Linked DNA regions of Homo sapiens: regions 1, 2 and 4 are each reported to be linked to region 3. The links are microRNA targets in miRTarBase. Many come from high-throughput screens and were not tested one by one. Region 3 holds a microRNA gene; each other region holds the end of a gene's coding sequence.

Region 1 (3,250 bases), not on the chromosome of region 3:
ACAGTATTGTCCCTACTTCCATTCCTTATTTTAGTAATTTGAGTCTTTTCTCCTTTTTCCTTGATCAGTCTAGCTAAAAGTTTATTAATTTTGATTTTTTCAAAGAACAAACTTTAGGTTCCATAGATTCCATTGTTTTCGTGTTCTCAATTTCATTTGTTTTTGTTCTCATCTCTTATTTTCTTCCTTCTGCTGGCCGTGGATTTAGCTTTTTAGTTTTCTCTTCTTGTTTTAGTTCCTCAAAGTATAAAGTTAGGTTATTAGTTTGAGAGCTTTCTTTTTTAAAATGTAGGCATCTCCAAATATAAATTCCCCACTGAGGGCTTTTGCTTTCGCTACACTTAACAAGTTTTGTTATTGTTGTGTTTTCATTTTCACTCATTTTAAAATATTTTAAAATTCATCTTCAAAATATTTCCCTAGTGATTTCTTCTTTGATTCATCTGCTGTTTAAAGAGTGTATTGTTTTATTTCTACATAGTATTTGTGAATTCTCCAGATTTTCTTGTTGTTGATTTTTAATTTCATTCCATTGTAGTCGAGATACTTTTTCAACTTTTAAAATTTATTGAGACCAGATTTGTGGCATAACATTGGTCTGTTTTGCACAATGTTCTGTGTACACTTAAGAAGGTGTATTCTCCTTTGGGTGGAGTATGCTACATATTTCTTTAGGTCTAATTGCTTTATAGTGTTATTCTGAACGTTTCTGTGAGGATGTTTTTGGGTGAGATCAGCATTTAAATCAGTGGACTTAAAGCAGATTGCCTTCTCTAATGTGAATGGGTTTCATCCAATGAATTGAAGTCCTAGATGGAAAGACTCACCTACCCCAGCAAAGGGAAATTCTGATGCAGACAGCCTTTGAACTTGAACTGCAGTGGCAGTTATCTCCCTGGGTCTTTAGTGTGATGGCTTTCGGACTTGAACTCATCAGCTCTTCCCTTCCCTGGTCTCCAGTCTGCTGGCCCACCCTACAAGTTTGGACTTGCCCCCACAACCATGTGAACCAATTCTTGAAAGTAAATCTTTATATACACACACATCCTATTGGTTCTATTTCTCTGGAAAACCCTAATTCTCCTACCTATAGAATATATGAAATTGTTGTAAAACTATAATCATTTAAATGAAAGAGTATTTGGAAAGTTTAGAATTAAATCTATCTATCTATCTATCTATCTATCTATCTATCTATCATCTATGTATGTATATATGCAGATGCTCCTTGACCTACAACGGGGTTACAATTCGATATACCCATAAGTTGAAAATATTAAGTCAAAAATGCATTTAATACACCTAACCTAATGAACATTATAGCTCAGCCTAGCCTGCCTTAAATGTGCTCAGAAAACTTACATTGGTTTACTACTGGGCAAAATCATCTAACACAAAGTCTATTTTGTCATAAAGTGTTGAATATCTTATGTGATTTATTGAGTACTGTACTGAAAGTGAGAAACAGAATGGTCATATGGGTACTTGAAGTACAGTTTCTACTGAATGCATACTGTCTTTGTACCACTGAAAAGTCGAAAAATCATTAAGTCAAACCATTGTTATGTCAGAGACCATCTGTATATGTACATATAATTAACCATAAAATTATATATAAAATTATACATAAGGGAATTAAGAATTCCTGAGGTTTCTTTTTTCCTCTTATTTATTTCCCCCACTTTTTTTTGAGACAGGGTCTTGCTGTGTTGCCCAGGCTGGAGTGCAGTAGTATGATCACAGCTCAACTACAGCCTCGACCTCCTTACTGGGCTCAGATGATCCTATCACCTCAGCCTCCAGAGTAGCTGGGACTACAGGTGTGCACCATCATGCCCAGCTAATTTTTTGTATTTTTTTGTAGATATGGGGTTTTGCCATGTAGCCCAGGCTGGTCTCGAATTCCTGGGCTCAAGCGATCCACCCGCCTCAGCCTCCCAAAGTGCTTTTTACTCCCTTTTGATAACATCCTGTTACCTATAGAGAGTAAGAAATTTAAGGATAAATCACTGCAGTTTTATTTAAAATTTTAGACAAAATTTAAATCATGTATATAAATACAAAGATGAACATTGGTTCTTTAAACACTGACAAAATCCTGAAACAATATAATGTATATATTTTAAGCCACATTTCCTATTTTTACAACATAGTTTACAACCTTCCCATTTTTACAACATAGTCTAAAACTAAGTTTATAAAAAAAAGTACATAGGAAAATATGATTGAAGCATTCTCAAATACATGGCTCTGAGGGTAGATTACTTGTTTTTTATCATTTAATCCATATACAATGCAGCAAATAGATACATTAATTATAACATTTTCCTTCAATTAATAGTTTATTCACTGTCATAGAAGCTCCATGAAGGGGCATCACTTAAGAAGCTCTCCAGGTTAGAGTCAAGCAAATTCTGAACACTTGGTCAAAGGCACATGAAAATGCCAGGTCCTGGCACAATGAGTAAATAACCCAGAAGGTGATATATGTCAGATCAAGACAATCTTAAGCACCATAGTAACTTTTGAGGCAAGTGGCACCGTACTCTTATTAAAGACAAGTCTTTACTGTTGAGGGCACTGGGTCTCTGGAGTAGATTTAGAAGACACATATAGAATAGGGTGTAATTTCTTACAAGTTTCTTTTTCCAATTTGCTTGAAGTTTCTTTTCCTTCTTTAACTTCTGTTTGAAGCTTTGATTCAGCAGCTAACCTACAGGCATTAAAGCATCCACTCTGAATTCAAATGTGGTTATGAAGGATTGAAGAAACAAACCCCCAGTATAATGGGCCTCCAATAAGGCATGGTATTCAAGGAAAAAAAATATAGTTGACTCTAATACTGTAAGAATATTAAGTCACTGGCTGTCTAAAAGTCTTTTTATATCAATAGGCTCAATTATTGTTATTATTACTTTTTGAGACAGAGTCTCACTCTGTCACCAGGCTGGAGCGCAGTGGCATGATCTCGGCTCACTGCAACCTCCGCCTCCCGGGTTCAAGCGATTCTCCTGCCTCAGCCACCGGAGTAGCTGGGACTATAGGTGCGCACCCCCACATGCAGCTAATTTTCGTATTTTTAGTAGAGACAGGGTTTCACCACGTTGGTCAGGATGGTCTTGATCTCTTGACCTCGTGATCCACCTGCCTCAGCCTCCCAAAGTGCCGGGATTACAGGTGTGAGGCACCACGCTGGGCCAATTATTTTTTAAGTCTAAAGAATATCTTTAAAAAGTCATGGCAAGCCCTA
Region 2 (3,250 bases), not on the chromosome of region 3:
ATTTATATATATTTTTTGAGACAGTGTCTCACTCTGTTGCCCAGGCTGGAGTGCAATGGTGTGATCTCAGCTCACTGCAACCTCCGTCTCCTGGGTTCAAGTAATTCTCCTGCCTCAGCCTCCTGGGTAGCTGGGATTACAGGTGCCCGCCACCACGCCTGGCTGATTTTTGTATTTTTAGTAGAGACGGGGTTTTGCCATGTTGGCCAGGCTGGTCTTGAACTCCTGAACTCAAGTGATCTGCCCGCCTCGACCTCCCAAAGTGCTGGGATTACAGATGTGAGCCACCGCGCCCCGCCAAATTTGATTATTTTTAATAAGAACTTAGCTGTATGGTATTTTAACAGTACCTGCTTTTAAAATTATTATCATCTTTTTCCTTTACAGGTTTTTGATGAAGTTGTGCAGATTTTTGACAAGGAAGGCTAATTCTAAACCTGAAGGCATCCTTGAAATCATGCTTGAATATTGCTTTGATAGCTGCTATCATGACCCCTTTTTAAGGCAATTCTAATCTTTCATAACTACATCTCAATTAGTGGCTGGAAAGTACATGGTAAAACAAAGTAAATTTTTTTATGTTCTTTTTTTTGGTCACAGGAGTAGACAGTGAATTCAGGTTTAACTTCACCTTAGTTATGGTGCTCACCAAACGAAGGGTATCAGCTATTTTTTTTAAAATTCAAAAAGAATATCCCTTTTATAGTTTGTGCCTTCTGTGAGCAAAACTTTTTAGTACGCGTATATATCCCTCTAGTAATCACAACATTTTAGGATTTAGGGATACCCGCTTCCTCTTTTTCTTGCAAGTTTTAAATTTCCAACCTTAAGTGAATTTGTGGACCAAATTTCAAAGGAACTTTTTGTGTAGTCAGTTCTTGCACAATGTGTTTGGTAAACAAACTCAAAATGGATTCTTAGGAGCATTTTAGTGTTTATTAAATAACTGACCATTTGCTGTAGAAAGATGAGAAAACTTAAGCTTTGTTTTACTACAACTTGTACAAAGTTGTATGACAGGGCATATTCTTTGCTTCCAAGATTTGGGTTGGGGGCACTAGGGGTTCAGAGCCTGGCAGAATTGTCAGCTTTAGTCTGACATAATCTAAGGGTATGGGGCAAGGATCACATCTAATGCTTGTGTTCCTTATACTCTATTATATAGTGTTATTCATGATTCAGCTGATCTTAACAAAATTCGTAGCAGTGGAACCTTGAAATGCATGTGGCTAGATTTATGCTAAAATGATTCTCAGTTAGCATTTTAGTAACACTTCAAAGGTTTTTTTTTGTTTGTTTTCTAGACTTAATAAAAGCTTAGGATTAATTAGAAGAAGCAATCTAGTTAAATTTCCCATTTGTATTTTATTTTCTTGAATACTTTTTTCATAGTTATTTGTTTAAAAAGATTTAAAAATCATTGCACTTTGGTCAGAAAAATAATAAATATATCTTATAAATGTTTGATTCCCTTCCTTGCTATTTTTATTCAGTAGATTTTTGTTTGGCATCATGTTGAAGCACCGAAAGATAAATGATTTTTAAAAGGCTATAGAGTCCAAAGGAATATTCTTTTACACCAATTCTTCCTTTAAAAATCTCTGAGGAATTTGTTTTCGCCTTACTTTTTTTTCTTCTGTCACAATGCTAAGTGGTATCCGAGGTTCTTAATATGAGATTTAAAATCTTAAAATGTTTCTTATTTTCAGCACTTACATCATTTGGTACACAGGGTCAAATAGGGCAAATAATTTTGTCTTTGTATAATAGATTTGATATTTAAAGTCACTGGAAATAGGACAAGTTAATGGATGTTTTTATATTTTAATAGAATCATTTATTTCTATGTGTTATGAAATTCACTTAATGATAAATTTTTCAACATACTTGCCATTAGAAAACAAAGTATTGCTAAGTACTATAACATATTGGCCACTAAAATTCATATTGAGATTATCTTGGTTTCTTGGAAGAGATAGGAATGAGTTCTTATCTAGTGTTGCAGGCCAGCAAATACAGAGGTGGTTTAATCAAACAGCTCTAGTATGAAGCAAGAGTAAAGACTAAGGTTTCGAGAGCATTCCTACTCACATAAGTGAAGAAATCTGTCAGATAGGAATCTAAATATTTATAGTGAGATTGTGAAAGCAACCTTAAAGTTTTGAAGAAGACTGATGAGACTAGGTGCTTTGCTTCCTTTCATCAGGTATCTTTCTGTGGCATTTGAGAACAGAAACCAAGAAACATGGTAATTACTAAATTATGAGGCTTTGCTTTTTGTTTGCTTTTAAGTAGAAAAACATGTTGGCAACATTGAGTTTTGGAGTTGATTGAGATAATATGACTTAACTAGTTTTGTCATTCCATTTGTTAAAGATACAGTCACCAAGAATGTTTTGAGTTTTTTGAAAGACCCCAATTTAAGCCTTGCTTATTTTTAAATTATTTCCATTCAGTGATGTTGGATGTATATCAGTTATTTAGTAAATAATCTCAATAAATTTTGTGCTGTGGCCTTTGCTATTTGTTGGTTTAGATTTCTGTTCTCTAAGCATATTGAAGATCAAGAAGTATCCTATTTAACATGTGGGTCCTCACACTACAAAAGCAGAGTTCAGGACTGTCGATGCAAAGAGTCAAACTCTGTAAAATATTTGAAGAGATTTATTCTAAGCCAAATATGAGTGATGAGTGGCTTGTGACACAGCCCTTAGGAGATCCTGAGAACAAGTGCATACAGTGGTCGGTGTGCAGCTTGTTTTTATACATTTTAGGGAGACATGAGACATCAGACAATACATGTAAGATGTATACATGGTTCAGTCCAGAAAGGTGGGACAACTGGAAGCAGGTGTGGGGAAAGCTTCCAAGCCTTAGGCAGATTTAAAGATTTTCTGATTGGCAATTGGTTGAAAGAGTTACTATAAATAGAAAGGAACGTCTAGGTTGATACAAGGTTTGTTGGAGACCAAGGTTTTATCATGCAGATGAAGCCTTCAGGTAGCAGGCTTCAGAGAAAATAGACTGTAAATGCTTCTTATTAAGAGTGTGTTCTATCAGTAATTTCAAAAGGGAGGAGAAGTATAATGAGGCATGTCTGGCTCTCCCTTCCCCATGATGGCCTGAAACTGGTTTTTCAGATGAACTCTGGAATGCCCTTGGCCTAGAGGAAGGGTCCATTCAGATGGTTGTGGGGGCGCTTAGAATTTTATTTTTGCTTTACAGGATTGAGGAAAATTTTTCATCCTGT
Region 3 (3,000 bases):
CTACAGACCCAAGACCCAACCATCTTAAAAGAGGATTCAGGAAATCATTTAAATGTTTCTTCCTGCTTTCATGCCTTGAACATGCTGTTTCTGAGCAATACACTACAGAGATTGCCCTAATTGACACTAAATATGAGTTTTAAGCATTTATTCTGAAAACTAGACCCATGTAAACAAGTTAGCATCCAACTATCAATTCTTAGAAAATCTACTTTCCCTATATGTCTACTGGATTATTTGTCTCAGATCTTAGGGGAGGAAGTGGAAGAGCTGGAGAACAGCACGTGTTATTTTAGAGTTATAACTGGAAGTATTTGGAATGGCTTCTATGAAAGTTTATTTCACTGAAAATGTGGAAACAGCTTTGGAACTAAGGAATGGGCAGAGACTAGATTTGGAGGAGCAGGGTACTAAAAGCCTAGAGTCTGGCGAGGACTTAGAAGAGAAAAAGATTCTGGAAAGTTTGGAGCTCTTAAAGAAAAATAAAAATTTACTTCACTTCTAACTATTTGGTTGGTGCAAAAATAATTGCAGGTTTTGCCATTACTTTTTCACCAACTAACAAATTCAGTTTCAAAGATTTCTATACTGCTGACAGTTTTTTTCAAATATTAGCCCTTTTAATTATTTCATTACCAGACCAATATAACCTTAATTTTTTTCAACCAAGATAAACAATTTTTCTGCAGTAAATTTGTATTTATGTTCCAGACACATCTCATCTGATATACAATATTTTCTTAAATTGTATAAAGAGAAATTATTGTACATCGGATGAGCTGTGTCTGGGATTAAGTATTAGCTCCACTGTAACCTTCATTTTCTTGAACACTGGAAAGAAAGGCCAACGGTCATTTAGTAGGGTTGGAATAGGATGGGGAATGGGGCTTTGGTGAGAGAGCATTGGACTGTTGGTTATAGAAACACAGTTCAAGTATATCTGGAGTTCAGATTTGAGATCTGACTAGGAGAATCTGTCTAGTGAAAAAAGCTAGACCTTTACAAATTGTAGTCAGGAGCTACCGTTGTAACAGTCTGCCAGAGTTCCTGATACAAAAGATTGATAATTTGTGTGTTTGAAAAACAAAACAAAACAAAACACATCTACCTTCAATTTGACTTACTGCAACTCTGATTTTCATGGCAAGGGATAGAGACAAAATTCATTCTATAAAATTTGAAAAAAAATGTATATCCTGAAACCATTGGAAATTGGATATCAGCATTAATTTTATTGGACTGAAAAACCTCCAGTTTACTAACAGGAGTTGAAAGTCATCACTTTTCCTTTCATCATAGTGAGTTTTCATCACAAACCACAATGATATGCTTATCTCAAATATATTCATTTACTTGTTTTACACAAGTATCATTTCTGTTTACATAACACGCAATTTTGTTGCTGCTGCTGTTGTTTTATTATGCCTGTCACTTGAGTAAAAGATGGATAAGGTAAGGTCTCCATTTAGAAATGTATAGTCTCTTGGCAGGGAAGACAAATAAAGGCCCATAATTATCATAACAGAAAAATTAATATGTGACGCAAGAAAAAATAAAGATACTATTAAATTTCTTTGGGACTTTGAAGGAGGAAGGGAGCATATAGACACTTAGTAAATATTGTTTGAAGAAGGGAATGAATATGTAAAGGGAGAATAAACCTCACCTATAAGGTCTAGGGCAATTTAAACACAAAGGAGTTGTGTAGGATTATTTAAGGTTTGCAAATGTGTAAAATTATCTCACTACAATACTAGGGAAATGGAAAAACACCAAAGTTCCTCTACCAGCTTTTGCTGGATGAGATGGGCCAGAAGTAGTAACTGCGAGGGCAGCCTGTATTTCTGTTGTTGGTGTGGTTTATCTTCCCAGTGCCAATGCTGCCAACTTCCCCTCAAATAAAAACCCATAGGGGTTCAGAGTCTCATGAGGTGAGAACAGACTTGCACTATCTGTGACAACAACAAAAGCACTTATAATTTTGATGTGGAGGATCCTAATTGAAATCTGCTGTTTGAGGTTCCTTGGGTCCTGCATTCTTTCTTAAATATTTCTACTTGAGTTGGTTATTGATCCTTATTTATTTTCCGTCTAATCGATTGACTTTATAAATCTATTGCAGAGGGCAGATTAAATAGGCAGACAGTTTTCTAATTTGCTGTGAGGGTATTTCTTAATTTACTTTTTAAATACTGATTTTATTTATACATTTATATGCACAGGTCATTTTCATTTCCATGATATCATTCGAGCTTCACAACCACACTCCAAGTTCAGTGTTGTTATCTTCATCTTCATGTTGAGGATGAGGACACGGAAGCTCACAGGTAAAGTGACAAACCCCAGTCTTTAGGCTACTAGATGGTGGAGTTCAGACTCTGATTTTCTGGCCAGGTGCTCATTTGATGATAGCAGCATGAAGCTCTTCCCATTCTGCACCGTTTGAGCTCCTACCCTTCCTAATCTTCTTTCTCTAATACGAGAACACTGTAATTAAAGTGGTATTTGGCTGATAAGTAGTAGGTTTTGATTTATAACACATAGAGCTGGCAGTGTAATTTTTGTCCCAGAACTTGATGTGCCATGAAAGCTATTATGCTCTTTTTTTTTTTTTTTTTTTTTTTTTTTTTGAGACGGAGTCTCACTCTGTCACCCAGGCTGGAGGGCGGTGGCGTGATATCTCGGCTCACTGCAACCTCCGCCTCCAGGGTTCAAGTGATTCTCCTGCCCCAACCTCCTGAGTAGCTGGGATTATAGGCATGCACCACCACTCCCGCCTAATTTTTGTATTTGTAGTAGAGACAGGGTTTCACCATGTTGGTCAGGCTGGTCTTGAACGCCTGACCTCATCATCCACCTGCCTTGGCCTCCCAAAGTGCTAGGATTACAGGCATGATCCACCACGCCCAGCACTATAATGCTTTTAATAGAGGGAAATGAATCTTCAGATGATGTCAGCATCCTAATTTTTTTTCTCCTCTTGGGGTTTTTCTAAATGAC
Region 4 (3,250 bases), not on the chromosome of region 3:
CCTGTGGCCAGTAACAATATCTGAAATATCTTATCATCTCCAGTGCTTTTTATATACTGCCTACTACATAAAATGTCCCAATAAATGTTGACAGATTAAATATAAAAGCAGTAATATCTTTTATTTAAAAAGTTCATCTTAGAAGAAAATTCAAAAGGGATACAATAAACTTTTCCATATCCCAAAAACTTGTGCCCAAGACAAAAAGAGGGAAGAATTTAAGTTTAGGGGTACATATGCAGGTTTGTTACACAGGTAAACTTTTGTGTCATGGGGATTTATTATACAGATTATTTCATCACCCAGGTATTAAGCCTAGTACCCATTAGTTATTTTTCCTGTTCCTCTCCCTCCTCCCACCCTCCACCCTTTGATAGGCCCCAGTACATGTTGTTCCAAGAGGGAAAAATTTAAAAAACATATGCAGTTAAATAACCATAATGAATAGTTTTCCTAGAAAAAAAAATATTGCCTTTTAAAAAAAATCAAATATGTACTACTTTAAAGGTTGCAACCATCTCATATTGAAAATTAAAGATGTTCCTTCCTAAAATTTTACATTAATCAATTAAATGTTTATGTTAGAAAATTTAACATTAATAGAATAAAAACTGTTTTAGAAACATCACCAAGAACACTGTTGTGGCACATGTTTGCAAATATTGCAATTCCTGCAACATCATATGTATTGAAAAGTCTGGAAAGCCCATGTGGCTGAGAGTTAAATTTATATACTGAAGTAAAACCTGGGAATATTCATCATGCCAATTATAGTTCAATTATTTTATCAGACAGAACTCTGAGAGCAAATTAAAATTTTAAAATTTTACCTATTCCATAGACTGAATTTTTCTAGGTACTATTTTAATACAAATTATTATTATAGCAAAATTCTGAACACTTTTTGGTTGTTAGTATATTTTAAAAGTATTAATATTTCTTTTTACCTCTTAAATATAAAGAAAGCTTCAATTCAGCCTTCTATTCATCCAGATACATTGCATGTATATGTGTTAAAAAAACGACTAGGCAATTAGATTTACTTATCTTACTTTATTCATAAATAAGAATTTTCCTAAGTGCAGTGAGGGGTAGGAGACATGGAAACCTTTCTCATACTTATAGGTGATATTAAACTGAAATATATAACTGCCTTTTGGGAACAGTATTTTTTCTGTTTTCTATGAATTACCCATAAGCATAGCAAAACCAAGATAAATTTAAATTTAATATTGTTAAAGAGCACTGTTCAAGATAAACTTTCATGTATATCACAGTATAGCATTATACAATGATTTTACGTAAAAATATTTAGAAGCACAGTGATGATTTTAAGAAGCCATAAAACATTTTAATGAAATATAAGAAAGTCATGAATATTTATGTGGATATGTATGTTGCAAATTTAAGGTAAATCAACATAGGATAAACACAGAAGATTACATACAAACCCTACATATTTTATTTCTGGTGAAACATATAAACACTTTCCTACTATAGTACAAAATCAATTAGTTCCTCTACCAGCACTAAAGACTTGTCATCTAAATATATTCATTTTAGGGGAGAAAAAAATGCTTCACATTTTTCTAAAATAAAGACTGCAATAAATTAGTGCTTTAAAAAATATATATATATAGGATATAGATCCTAAGAAAATAAAACTAAAGTATAAAAAATGAATAGCATTTCTTTTCCTGCCATCATATCCTTTCTTATCTCATTCCTACATAGAATGAATGATAAGCTAAATTATTTAGACATGTATGGTGACTGAAAGCAATGTCTTCAAGGAAACAGCTTCTTGTTTAGCCTCTTACTCTACCATACTTAGAGTAAAAATCAAAGGATATTTTAGAAATATCTTGTAACTATTGTTGTAGCAATAATCTGTCTTGTTAGAACAACACAATAAAAATGACCTAGAGAATTCCATGAACAATGATACTTGGATTACAAGAGAGCTAAAAATCAGAGGCTATTCCTGTGTGCAAACTATTTTTACCAGTCTAAATACTATATGGTTTACCACTGAACACCCAAGTTTGACTGAAGTGAACATTTGCTACTATCAGTAAAAAACTCCCTCTCTTACAGGAATGGCAGAAATATAGACATTTAGTCATCAAAAATGGCACAATGTACATCACACAAATGATTATATTATGGTTCATAAGGAAAACAGCCACAATTTTGATCAGAGAAATGTTAATACATATGAAGCCTTAAAACAGCAACATGGCGGGGAAGGAGAGGGAGGCGGGAACCTAATGCATTTGAATTAAAGGAAACAGGCAATATTTGGTCGATGTAAACAATGCTATTTAACGAGTGCTTTATCTACTTTACTGAAATACGGAAATACTTATGTACACGATTTAAATGTGCACAAGACTTGGGCTTTTTTCTTCTAGACTATGTACATCATTCAGCACACAATTCAAAAAGTTCTGGTGTATTCAACACACTCCCAGTAAGATTATGTTACACTGAAACATATAATATTAAACTTTCAAGAGACTGCTTTTGATGCTAAGGAGTAATCTATTTTTACAAGAATGCTCAATGGTGGTGATTTCTAGAATATCTTTTTCAATATCACCAAAAATAAGATAAAATTTATTTTAAAATTATGATTTAGAGGTAGAGCTGAAATTATTTATTTAAATTATAGGAAAGAAAGACATAAAATCATTGTGAGAGAATAATGGTGAAAAACATTCTTGCCTAAGAGTCTCCATCTTCTTTGGCTATAGTTGTTGTTTCAAGTTGAAACAGCATCACTAGTATTGCTGCCTTCGAACATTTTGTTTCTGGAAAAAAGCCTTTCCAAATTCATATGTACTGATCATAATGGCACAAGCAGGAGCAATTTTAATTAAGCGAGGAATTAGGCCTGAGAAAAGAATAGGAATAATCAAAACAAATATTTTTTTCTTACCTTATTTTTAAAAATATTATTTTTTGGCTTTATTCTGATAATTATCAAATTAAATGAAGTAATATGTTCAAATCCATAAATTGGTAGAAAAGACTGCTCACTTCCAACATCCTCACTTCAATCCATATTACATTATAGAGAAATTTTTATCTTATTGATAGTAAATCTTTTATTTAACATTTATTTTAACTTATAATAAAGATATTTAGGAGAAAATAAATGTAGTATGTTACCTATAACTTCCTCCTATAAGTTAATTTTAGAAGGTAATATTTTAAAAGTAATCATTCTATTCAATGATTCGGTAAA

The links. The annotated mature microRNA hsa-miR-944 reads AAAUUAUUGUACAUCGGAUGAG and lies in region 3 at 758-779, shown strand. An mRNA with a match to its seed (bases 2 to 7 or 8) in the 3' UTR can be bound and repressed. Matches are read on the target gene's strand: a 7mer-m8 pairs with bases 2 to 8, a 7mer-A1 pairs with bases 2 to 7 and ends in A, and an 8mer does both.
Region 1: miRTarBase lists SPDL1 as a target of hsa-miR-944. Seed matches in the 3' UTR shown: 7mer-A1 at 2,313-2,319.
Region 2: the mRNA of CMPK1 is a reported target of hsa-miR-944. Seed matches in the 3' UTR shown: 7mer-m8 at 1,747-1,753.
Region 4: the mRNA of SLC25A40 is a reported target of hsa-miR-944. Seed matches in the 3' UTR shown: 7mer-m8 at 2,654-2,660, 7mer-m8 at 1,751-1,757, 7mer-m8 at 873-879 and 7mer-m8 at 778-784.

What each region holds. Positions count from the first base shown.
Region 1 is chr5:169,603,523-169,606,772 of GRCh38, reverse strand. It overlaps SPDL1 (spindle apparatus coiled-coil protein 1), which reads right to left. Exons shown (of 12, transcript NM_017785.5): 12 at 1,995-2,713. The coding sequence ends at 2,566. Among named protein-coding and RNA genes, the nearest start is that of SPDL1, 21 kb to the right of the region's middle.
Region 2 is chr1:47,376,317-47,379,566 of GRCh38, forward strand. It overlaps CMPK1 (cytidine/uridine monophosphate kinase 1), which reads left to right. Exons shown (of 6, transcript NM_016308.3): 6 at 388-2,523. The coding sequence ends at 429. Among named protein-coding and RNA genes, the nearest start is that of FOXE3, 38 kb to the right of the region's middle.
Region 3 is chr3:189,829,218-189,832,217 of GRCh38, forward strand. MIR944 (microRNA 944) reads left to right here and starts at 705; the gene lies at 705-792. All of the region lies in intron 4 of TP63 (tumor protein p63), which reads left to right.
Region 4 is chr7:87,833,466-87,836,715 of GRCh38, forward strand. It overlaps SLC25A40 (solute carrier family 25 member 40), which reads right to left. Exons shown (of 12, transcript NM_018843.4): 12 at 103-2,896. The coding sequence ends at 2,784. Among named protein-coding and RNA genes, the nearest start is that of SLC25A40, 41 kb to the right of the region's middle.